Linked DNA regions of Homo sapiens. The protein of the gene in region 2 purifies or fractionates together with the protein of the main gene of each other region. This does not show direct contact. Each region holds a gene or a part of one and is shown on either strand. Other genes may lie near its edges.

Region 1 (3,655 bases), about 23 Mb from region 2:
ACAAAAGGTTACATATTGTATGATTCCATTTATATGAAATCTTCAGAACAGGCAAATCCATATAGACAGAAAGCAAATTGGCGGGTGCCAGACGGTAGGGGTAAAGGGGAATGGCGAGTGACTGCTTAATGGGTACAGGGTTTCCTTTTGGGGTGATGAAAATGTTCCAGAATTAGCGGTGATGGCTGCACAACATTGTGAATGTACATACTGAAGTAACTGATTTGTACACTTTAAAATGGTTAATTTTACCTCAATTAAAAAAAATCACACAGTTCACCCTTGACAAATCCAGGAACTATACTCAGGAACTGACTCCAAGTCCTCTCCCCACTCAGCTATCCTGTTTCCTCCACAAACCAAAGGAGCTCTGGACCACCTTGGTAATGGACTTTTGCCTCTATATACTGCCAGCCAGGCATAGTACCTAACCATATTTGTGATGATGGAATTCCCACAGCTGTCCAAGCATACACAAGTTTCTAAATAAGATATTTTCTTATAATGGACTCACATTACAAACCATCTTGGACCAAGGTCTGCTTTCATGTCACAAAGTCATCCTTTATACAGAAGTTAACCATCATCCACCTAACTGATAAACCAATGACAGCTATGAAGTCTGGTCCCTCACAAGATGATATTCCTGTTTTCAAGAGTATAGCAATGAGGTTTATGCCTTCAATTAATCAAAACCATTCTTAACCAATAATTCTTGGCATTTTCCACCCCTTATATTTTCTGTTCTGTTGGCAGGCTACAACTCTTAGAAATATGAAGCACAAAATTGACCTTAAAAGCCTCTCTGCTAGGTTAAGGTTGCCAATGTGGCAGAAATGGATAAAAGACAAACTGGTTGTGACCATTTGCATTACAACCCATCCTAAATAGTCACTCTAACACCAAGTCTTCGAGGTAGAAGCCTTCACACAACTTTTTGGAAACCAGTTTGCTCAGTGCTTTCTTCTTTCTGAGCTCAATGAGGGCCTACATCTCCAACTTACATCCATATCCCTCAGGTACCATCAATGATAAATACTTCAAAGTATGAGAGTTTTTACATGCATGCAACTGGAAAATTAAGCTATAATATCAAGTTAATTGGAAAAAATACAGCTGCAAAAACTATTCCTGGGAATCTCACAGTTAGATACACATTCCCTAACATAGCCAAGTATTCCATTTTCAGCATACCAACAATATAGTCTTTGTTCATCAGCTCAATGGGAGGATGATGTCAGGGTCACTGGAGCCCAGATCACCACTGGCCTTTAGGAGCTCTACAGCTTTCCAGTTGAGAAAGAAACTTGTGGCCTAATCACCAACATCTGAGTCAGCCCCTTCAACAGTCCTGGCAAAATTTCTTCTCAGTAAAAAGTAGTCTCCAAAACAAGACCCCTAAGAACGTGGGAGAGGGGTAATCAGACACCATTGACCTACATCCCTAAAAAGTTAGGAGAAATGTTTGAGTAACCAACAGACTAACACCTACATTGTAGGCATGTAAGACACCTCATCCTCCCTCACCACTTCCTCTTTTTGGGCAAGCTTCTCAAAGGAATTTCCAACACTTGCCACTCCCATTTCCTTACTTTTTACCCACTTCATTTTGGTTTCTGCCTCTTCCAATCTAAAATGGTTCTTGCTGAGGTCAAAGACTCCATCTTGCTAAATTCAACAGATCATTTTTGTTCCACATCTTTACTTGATGACACCTCTCTATTTGAAACATTCTTCTCTCACCTTTTATGATGCATCTTAAACTAGAATTAGATTGTGAAGGAAACAGCTAAGACAAAAACCAAATATTGTTTAAATTACTCTTGAAAATCCTTTAAATGGCCCGTTAAATATCGCACACCTGTATACAAGTAAATAAAACTTTTCTCTCTCTCATTTAATAAAAAACATGGTAGAGCGCATTCAGTTAAGTTTGCACACTTTAATTCTGAGCAAGGCGTCATTCCACTGTACCTCTGTGGCCACTTCTCATTCTCTTCCTGGGCTATCCTCCTCTACTAAACTTCAAAATGCTGGGCCTGAGCCCTTTTTTCTTAATCTCTGTCAGTGGTTCTCAACTTCCACAGCTAAGTGGAATCACCTCAGATTCGTCCAAGGCAGCAAATCAGATCAAGTAAACAGAAAAAGAAATTTCTTAGGTGGACCACAGCATTAGCATTTTTTAATCATTCAGTGATTCCAATGTGCAACCAAGATGAGAACACTGTTCTATGCTCTCTTCCCAGACCAGGGATCACATGCTCAAAAGCCTACAGTCAGAGAAATAAATGAGCAAAGTGGGCCAGGCATAATTTTAGGGAGTGGTGGGCTCTGTAGTGAAATAGAAGAGCTGCGATCATCTGTGACTTAGCTCCAATTATTGCTGCCATATTGGAAAACCAACTCAGTAGTGCTACATTTTCTCATTTTTAAAGAGAAACCCCAAATCTGGATTTTTCATGAGAAATCTTCAGATTTTAAAATATTGGCAACTAATTCAAAATTAAACAATAACAAAACCACTGTATGGGCAAAACATCTGTGAGTCAGATTCAGCTGTAGGCTACTGCTTTGCAACCACTGCCCTAGATAATTTCATCCACAGCCTTTAATTTACACCTAAAAATTCGTGCCTCCAGTTTAGCCCTCTGCTCTTGGCTCTGAATTAGAATTGTCAAATGCTTATGTGACCTCTCACTTGAAAATCTCAGCAGTCCCAATGTAAACTGTGATTTAAACTCATCTCAAAACTATTTATCCTTAAATGTTCTTTACTTCAGGTAACACCACCACCATTCACTGGTTGGGCAAGCTAGAACCCTGGGAGTCATCTTAGGATCTCATTTCTCCCTCTCAACCCTTGTACCATATCAACCACCAAATCCTATCAATTACGCCTCCTAAATATATCTCATGAATATATGTACTTCTCTCCATCTCCAATACGACCATTCTTTTCTCTCAGCCACCACCTTTTCTCTCCTATGTTATCCACAGTAACCTTAATTAGGGGCAGCTGTCTCCCACACTCAATCTTGTTTCCTTCCAAAGCATTCTAATATGACCAGAATATTTTATAATCACAAATAATTACAAATATATACACATATACACGCATTACATAAATATATACTTATGTAAATATATGTGTTTGTGTGTTTATTTCACCCAACAATTCCATTTCTAGGAATTTACCCTATAAATATATTTATTCACATATGAAACAGCATATTCGTAGCACTGTTTACGGTAAATTACTGGAAACAATCTAAATGTCTGTCAGTGGGGGAATGGTTAAATAATCTATGGTATATCCATACAGTGAAATACTGTACAGTCATTCAAAAAAATAAGGAAACTATATACTGAAGTGGAAAGATTCCCAAGACATTTTTAAGAAAACAGAGTGTACAGTATGCTACCATTTGTGTAAAACAGTAAGAGGAAAGATATGCATTTCCTTGAATGCCCACAAAAAATGTCTACAATGATATACAAAACTAGTATCAGTGGTTATTCCTTTGGAAGACAGGGAAAATGGTAGCTGGGGGAGGGAGCAGAACCCACCAAAAATGCTCTGATTTGCTTGGAGGAGGGCCCAGGCGTCGGTCTTAAGTTCTGGTGGTTCTGATGAGAGTGTTGGACTGAGAACCAC
Region 2 (3,579 bases):
CCTTTATTTAAGGTTCCTGTGTACTCATATTTAAACAGAGTTTAACATTCCAATTGGGCCTAATATTTGCCAGAAAAAAATAGCATAGATAGAATCTTCCTTACCTAATCCCTCTTTTCCTGACCAATGTTTGAATGCCATCTTTAACTTATTCTAAAGGGCTGGAAGCTACTTCAAGGATGTGGAAGGAAGGCAGGAGCCATAGAAAATTGCAATGAGGGAATTTTGTGGGTGTGTGCTTTTCCTCTACATTGCTTGAAACTCCTGCTTTGAGAGCCAGTTCCACACAGATACAATTACTACTGTCTCCTGTTTGTGAGGAGGGAGTATCAGTTGAATTTTAGTTTCTTCTCTTGTTTTAGATTAAGCCCCCTAATTTGGTGAGAAATCTGGTTAAGTGAAGTTCCTTGAAAGCAGCACACAACTTTTCTCTAAAGCTGTGAAATTGGTAATTAGAATTTTTTATATTTTATACTTATAAATACTATATAATATTTTGTATGTTTTATATTTATGTCTTATACGTTTAACGTACAATATAAACTATTTTAACATTTTAGATTTAATATTTTGTATATATGTTAATATATATATTCTGCCCTGCAAAACCAGACTCCACACAGCATAATCAAATAAACCTTTTATTTACAGGCAAAGGATATAGTACAAGAAGAAAAAGAGAATACAGATGACATCGGGGGTCCAAGAGACATTCCATATTTAAGCTTCATAATGTCCTTATTTGCACACATATACCACACTGCCTTCATTTTCTCCAGCTGATAGATTTGTGTAAGAAATCTTGACTTTGAGAGTTCAATGTCATTCCCAACAGGGTCTTTATGTCTGTCTGGTCATGTTATCAGCCAGTCTTACTTAATGTATTAGGCCAGTTGGAAACCATCATTAAAGAAACTGACCCTGGTGATCACCAGAGTAGTTTCAGACTATAAACAACACATCATAAATCCCACTGCCCTTATCTTGGCCCAAAGACAAAACTGGACATTCTGATGACCCCAGAGATTATGACAGTGTTTTCTGGTCTAATTAAACCATAGTCTTCATATACCTTTACCACGCCTCCTTCCTCCAATTAGGAAGCTAAGTGGGTAAGAAAGAAAAAATAAAGGCAGAGCATAACGATGTCACCCATCTTTGGCCTCTTAGCCGGAGCTGATCCTTACATGGGCAGTAGACTATAAGTGTGTTAATTATTTTTCCTACTGCAGAGCTTCTTCACGTTGGAATGGTGAATAGGTACACATTTCTCAAAGCTCAAAGTGCAAGTCTAGGTATATTCTCTAGTTTCAATCTTGGTGAAATTTTTTTCTATGAATTCATTACTTTTTAGTTTATTTCAGGGAGGGGGTGGTGTTTTTTAATGAATTAATACAAGTGTCAGCATCTTTCATGGACATCCAGACAATTTCTTAAAGATGGGAGAGGTAAAAAATCTTCAGGAGAAACTGTGCCTGAACTGTGAGTATCCAGAAGCCATTGACCATGTTAATGGTGGAGCCAATATGAAGTACTTGCTAAATCATGTGGTGCGTGAAAGGAAGAGCAATGTTATAATTGCATCCTCCTAAAGACTACATAACCATCATCACTCATCATCTCTCCCTGGTCCCTTCCACCTGCCAAACCCCCATAAAAACCCATAATTGATGATACATATTAGTTTATAATTAACGGCGTACCTAACTGTTCTCTACTAGTCTGAGCCTCTGTACAGAGAAATGTCAGTTTTGTATTCCTGGTTCCTGGAAAAGTACATATAGAATAGTATAAATACAATAAATGTTTGAATTATCGTATAACTTGAGTCTAAATTTTAAGTTAGTATCCTGTATTAAGAACTGGGTTGATCAAATGGTTCTTTCTTTGCACATATCAAGGCTTTCGACTATTCCCAACCAGGTCTTCCCAAATTTGGGCATATTCCTGCCTCTGCCTACCCTGTTCTAATTTGGCACTCTAAAGATAGTTCATAAAAAGCAAGCCAAAGATAGAAAAGAGAGCTAAGGCTACAGGAGGAATTTACTCTTTAACATTTGGGGGAAGGAAAATGAGGCTTGTCTACAGCAGGGACTGGCTGTCTTCCAGAAATGGTTTCCCAAGGTGTTCCCTACCTCTCTTTTTCTTGGATATCTTTTTGCATTATAGATAGCCTTGGGAAGGGTGTCACCTTTATCCTATCAGTTCCACCTAATCAACTGTAGTCATCTGAGAGCCAGAATTATTATTGATAGAGGGGCCTGGGAAAGGAGAAAAGGACCAGGAGAGAGGAAGGTATACTTATTGCAGAGGAGAAAAGCCAAAGAACGTTTGCCCATGGGCAGTCTTAGCTATTTAAAATCACCCACTTCTTCATCCGGCTCCCTTGGCATATGTATCAGCCCATGGATTGGGAGGTGTAGGACCATTCTTTTTCTTTCTGGAAGGAAAGCACTGACATTTAAGCTCTGTGCGGTCTGCTCAGGGGCTGCCCAGTTTGTCCAAGCTTTAGGATATTAGAGAGATTACGCATTTGTGGTCTCAAGTTAGGAAACTGTTGAAGAACAAATATGTCCCTTATTAGAGGGCCTCTTTAGATGTTTAGGGTACTCACAATCCTTGCCAACCTGATGTCCTTGGAAGCTCCAGTCTGGCTGTAAGGAGATGATGAGGGGTTCTGTGTGTTGGAGGTGATGACCTCATTGAGTCTCAGCCACAGCAGGGCATTATGCAGGAAAGAATTCAATGGAGTTATTTAATACCTTTCCCTATTCCCACAAAAATCTGGAACTGGGTTCTGAACTGAGAAGTCTGGGTTCCCTGAGAATTGGACATCAGTTCAACCACAGGAAGCCTCTAAATTTAGCACTCTACTCACAGAGGGCCAAGAAAAATTCACAAATGTCACAAACTTAGGAACTTAGGTATCTAGTCTTCTCTGTCATTTTGTAATGAGAAACTGAGGCCCATAGGTAAAACATCTCACCTCCAGTCACACAGGTAAGTACATGGCAGGGCAAGGACAGGCACCCAGTTTTCCCAAGTCCAGTGGCCTTTTCATGATACCCATTTCTGTGTATCATTTCATTGATTTCTGTGACAGCTGGCCCTTTGCCCCTCATCACCAAATCTTAACTCTTTGGACTTTAATAATGTGCAAAATTAAGAGGAAGTCTGGCATCGGGAGCTTTACACAACTCAGAGAGAACTGAGGAAAGTAGTTAGCATGTTAACTGTGCCTCACCTTGACCTGAAGTGAAGAGCACTCACCAAGCCACAACCTGCTATCTGCACACCCCACACCATGAGGTAAAGGACAGCCAAGGAAGAGAAAGGAAAGAAAAGCAATCCGGCAGGGAGATCAGGGAGCGAAACGAACAGAGAAACGAACAGAGGTTTTTTCCAAGGGCCTTCTATTTTTCTACAATCTCCACACATTCAGTACTGAGACACATTAAGAAGGGCCCACTGAGGCCATCATTCACCCTACTCTCGGGCTGCTTCCATCCTCCAGGCTTCTAGAAGTTGAGAAAGTATGAGCTTCATTGTTAATTATATTACAGAAAATGGGACCAGCTG
Region 3 (3,655 bases), on a different chromosome or scaffold from region 2:
TGTTTTAAGCCTCCTCCTCTGCCCATTTGGATTTCTCCTAGCTCTGACATTCTGGGCCCTATGATTGTAGTTGATGTTGTCAGTGGCTGGCTTGTATCACCCAGACCTTTCCATGCTCCATATCTACTTCTTACTGCCAGGGTTTGTCTTTAGGGATCAAATCTTTGGATAATTCTAGGGAGTATGTTTGCTCCATTTCCCAAAGGATTTGAGCTTCAGTTACTCATAGGGGCCACTGGTTTAATAACACATGCTTTATTCATTGCCTCCCCTTCCTTGTATTATTCCACTACTTCCTTGCATGTCCCATATCAACTACTTGTGCTCAGATCCTTTCTTTAGGGTCTGCTTTTTTGGGGGACCCCACACTAATACCGTGCTCTTTTTTGCAGGTAGGGGCCATGCCTTGTACTTTCTTGTGCTCCCACAGGGCCTGAGACTGAGCCAGGTTCTCAATTCTAGAACCAGTCTCCAGGTATCCCTGTAGGAAGGTCCCCATAGCTCTGGTGCCAGGAACTAAGAGATGGAGTCCATTGGAGGAAGACCAAAGCACACTTCTCTTGAGGAAGTGCCTGTTTTTAACTCCACATCCTTTTGCCCTGTTCTCGTCTGCTCTGATGGGAGCTCCTGGGTCTACCTGGGTAAGAGCCAGAGCTGTTAATCACCAGGTGATGAGATACACACAGGCCTTAGTCACAGCCTCAAACCAGGGCTGCCTCTCCCAGTTCCCATAGCAGAGCAGCTGTCTTTGATTTCAGGTAGTTCAGGGGAGGAGGAGGGCTACGGAAAGGAGGGAGAAGTGAGGGAGGAGGAGAGGAGAAAGAAGTGAGGAACAGGGAAGGAAAAGGACCCTCTCTCCAGAGGCGCCTGACCCAGGGTACCTCTCCCTTTCTTGTGGGGTCCTTTCTGCTGCTTCTCCCAGTCTCCTGAGATAGCACTGAAGAGGCCCTTTCTCTCCGACTGGGAGCTGACAGTTGTTGATCTGTCTTTGCCAGGAATTTTGCTCCAAATAGTCTTTGTAGATATAATTAAGGCTCTGGGCATAAGATCATTGCTGATTTAGGGTGGGCCCTAAATCCAATGACAGGTGTCCTTATAAGAGAAAGGGACATTACACACAAACACACACGGCAAGGCTGTGAGAAGATGGAGGCAAAGTGGAGTGATGCGTCTACAAGTCAAAGAAGAATAAGGGTTGCTGGAACCACCAGAAACTACGAGAGAGGCATGGATCAGATTTTCCCTTGGAGCCTCCAGAAGGAGCTATCTCTGCCAATACCTGGATTTCAGACTTCTGGCTTTCTGAATGGTAGGAGAATACATTTCTGTGTTTTAAGCCACTCAGGTTGTGGTAATTTGTTACAACAGCCATAGAAAATTAATACAGGGAGGAAGAGGGGAAAGAAGAGGAAGAGGTGGCAGGAGGAGCAGTGGTTTCTAAATGGCAAAGACACCAAAGCATTTAAAGGGCAAGAAAGGTTTGGAATTTGGAGAGGAGCTGCCTGCACCTCGAAGGTAGACAGGGCCGGGGAGGGTGTGATGGGAGGTGAGCCTGGGATGAACAGGGCCAGTCTGGGAAGGACTTTGAGTGCCACACTAATGTGTCAGGGTCATGTCCTTGATGAACTGCAGCATGAGGGCCAAATCTGGCCTGACCCCTGTTTTTGTATATAAAGTTTTATTGGAACATAAGCCTACCCATTTATTTACACATTGTCTACAGATGAGTTTCAGCTGTGATAGAAGAGTTGCGTAATTGTGACAGAGACCATCTGACCATCAAAGCTTAAAATTACCATCTGTTCCTTTGCAGAAAAACATTGCTGTCCCTTGCTACAGGATGCTTCTCAAATGCCAAGAATTCTACCATGCCCCTGGCCAGCTCCATCAGACAAGATGGGCAGAAGGCAGCACTGCCCCAAGGTGGCACTGCCAGGGACTTCCATCCCCCTCCAGGTGAGTAGTCACTGCATCTTGTTTTATTCACCTTCACCTCCCCAGCCCCCAGCCTGGCCCAGAGTAAGCACTCAGTGATTAGTCACTGACTGAATGAATAGATGGTGAGCAGGCAAGGGAAGATACCTGGGTTCCCCACAGGCCAGGCAGTCCATACTGGTTTACCCACTGGGGTGGTCTGTCTTCCTTGTCAATTTTCTATCACCTTTCGCCTGGGGCCTATGATTTCCCCACAAAGGATTATCAGTGGTAGAGATGCAAAGATGGTCTCCCTCTCTCTCTTCCCAGGATCTGAGCTTTCAGTATAAAGAGGCTTCCTCCTGACTGGGTCTCCCTTAACTTTGGAGGGTCCTGAGTTTTGGAGGGCTTCCCTCTCCTTGGAGGAGAGAGCAGGAGGCTGGGTGTAGAATCTTTTCAGATAAAGAAGTCCTCTTGGATTTTCCCATTGACTTTTAAGACCTGGGAGGGTCCAACCTATAGATCATGAAGGTCCCTGCAGGAATGGGAAGATGTCAGGGGGGACCTTGGTCCCTACCATGAGAAATGAGGACAGTAGAGCACTACACTAGCCTTGGAGCCCAGATAACTAGCCTGGCCCCATCTCTTGCATGTACTGGCTCTGTAGCTTGGAAGAAACCACTTCACCTTATTGAGTCTCAGCTTCCTCTAAGGACCACTTCCTTGGGCCACCAACATCAGAATCATTTGGGAGAGCTTGTTAGAATGCAGATTCCTGGGCCTTTTCACTTAGAGTCAGAGTCTTGGTTGCTGGGCCTGACAGGCTGCATTTTAATAAGATCCCTAGGTGAGATGGCAAGGGTTGTCTGTGAGCCAGTCTAGGAAGCCTTTTAAATGTTAAGTGGAGACAAAGAGGAACTTATTCCTCTATCATTATTCTTGGGGCAGGAGAGGGTGTTGCTGTTTCTGCTCCTGTTGCTCTCTGCTGAGGGGTCCTGCACAAAAGGAGGGACGTAAAACAGGGAAGTAGAGAAGCATCAGCCAGCAGCAGTAAGCACAGGCCTGGGCATGAGGGCTCCTGTGAGGGTAGGGAGAGGCCTTCCAGTCTCTCTGCTCCTGCCCTGCCTGGGATCATGACCATCCTTTCCCCAGGGAGAAAGATTCTACAGTGGAAAATCACCACAAGGGAATCCTGCAAGGTTTTTCAGCAACTAATTTGTTGTTAAGTTGGTCATGGCATGTCAGAGCTGGGAGAGACCTTATGAATATTCTAGCCCTGCTCTTTCATGTTACAGGTGGGGAGATTGAGGCCAGAGAGGGAAGTGACTGGCTTGAGGTCCTCCCGTGCACTGGGGCCAGATCTGGGCTTAGAGGGTAGGTTTCCTGAAACCCTGCCCTTCTCACCCAGTGTGTTTCAGAGACTCCAGCTCATTTGCAATTTCTGCAGGTTTCTTTTATATAGTTTCTGGCAAGTTCATATCCCATCTGTATTATTTGTTTAGCATTTTCCCAAATAGACTTTTGTGTTTGACTCAAATAATAAATGTATTTTAAAATAATACCTTATATCATGATCATACACAGATAACAGTGTCTTTCATCATAAATACAAGGTTAGTATAAAAGTAATTACAGGACTATTGAGCTAGATCATCTTTATCTACATACCCACCAAGGTCATCTTGAGAGCCGCCAGTGGGACCCTCTCCAAGCTTTCAGAAATGCCGAATTCCAGCATAGT

What was found.
Region 1: the proteins of CCDC80 (region 2) and PPP2R3A purify together in Homo sapiens (co-immunoprecipitation; one large-scale study listed by IntAct). This does not show direct contact.
Region 3: the proteins of CCDC80 (region 2) and ISX purify together in Homo sapiens (co-immunoprecipitation; one large-scale study listed by IntAct). This does not show direct contact.

Annotation. Positions count from the first base shown.
Region 1 is NC_000003.12:135,968,585-135,972,239, reverse strand, and holds part of PPP2R3A (serine/threonine-protein phosphatase 2A regulatory subunit B'' subunit alpha), read right to left. Parts: intron 1-3,655. UniProt on the Homo sapiens protein: The B regulatory subunit might modulate substrate selectivity and catalytic activity, and might also direct the localization of the catalytic enzyme to a particular subcellular compartment.
Region 2 is NC_000003.12:112,596,169-112,599,747, forward strand, and holds the end of CCDC80 (coiled-coil domain-containing protein 80 precursor), read right to left. Parts: 3' UTR 629-3,579; downstream 1-628. UniProt on the Homo sapiens protein: Promotes cell adhesion and matrix assembly.
Region 3 is NC_000022.11:35,069,004-35,072,658, reverse strand, and holds part of ISX (intestine-specific homeobox), read right to left. Parts: intron 1-3,655. UniProt on the Homo sapiens protein: Transcription factor that regulates gene expression in intestine. May participate in vitamin A metabolism most likely by regulating BCO1 expression in the intestine.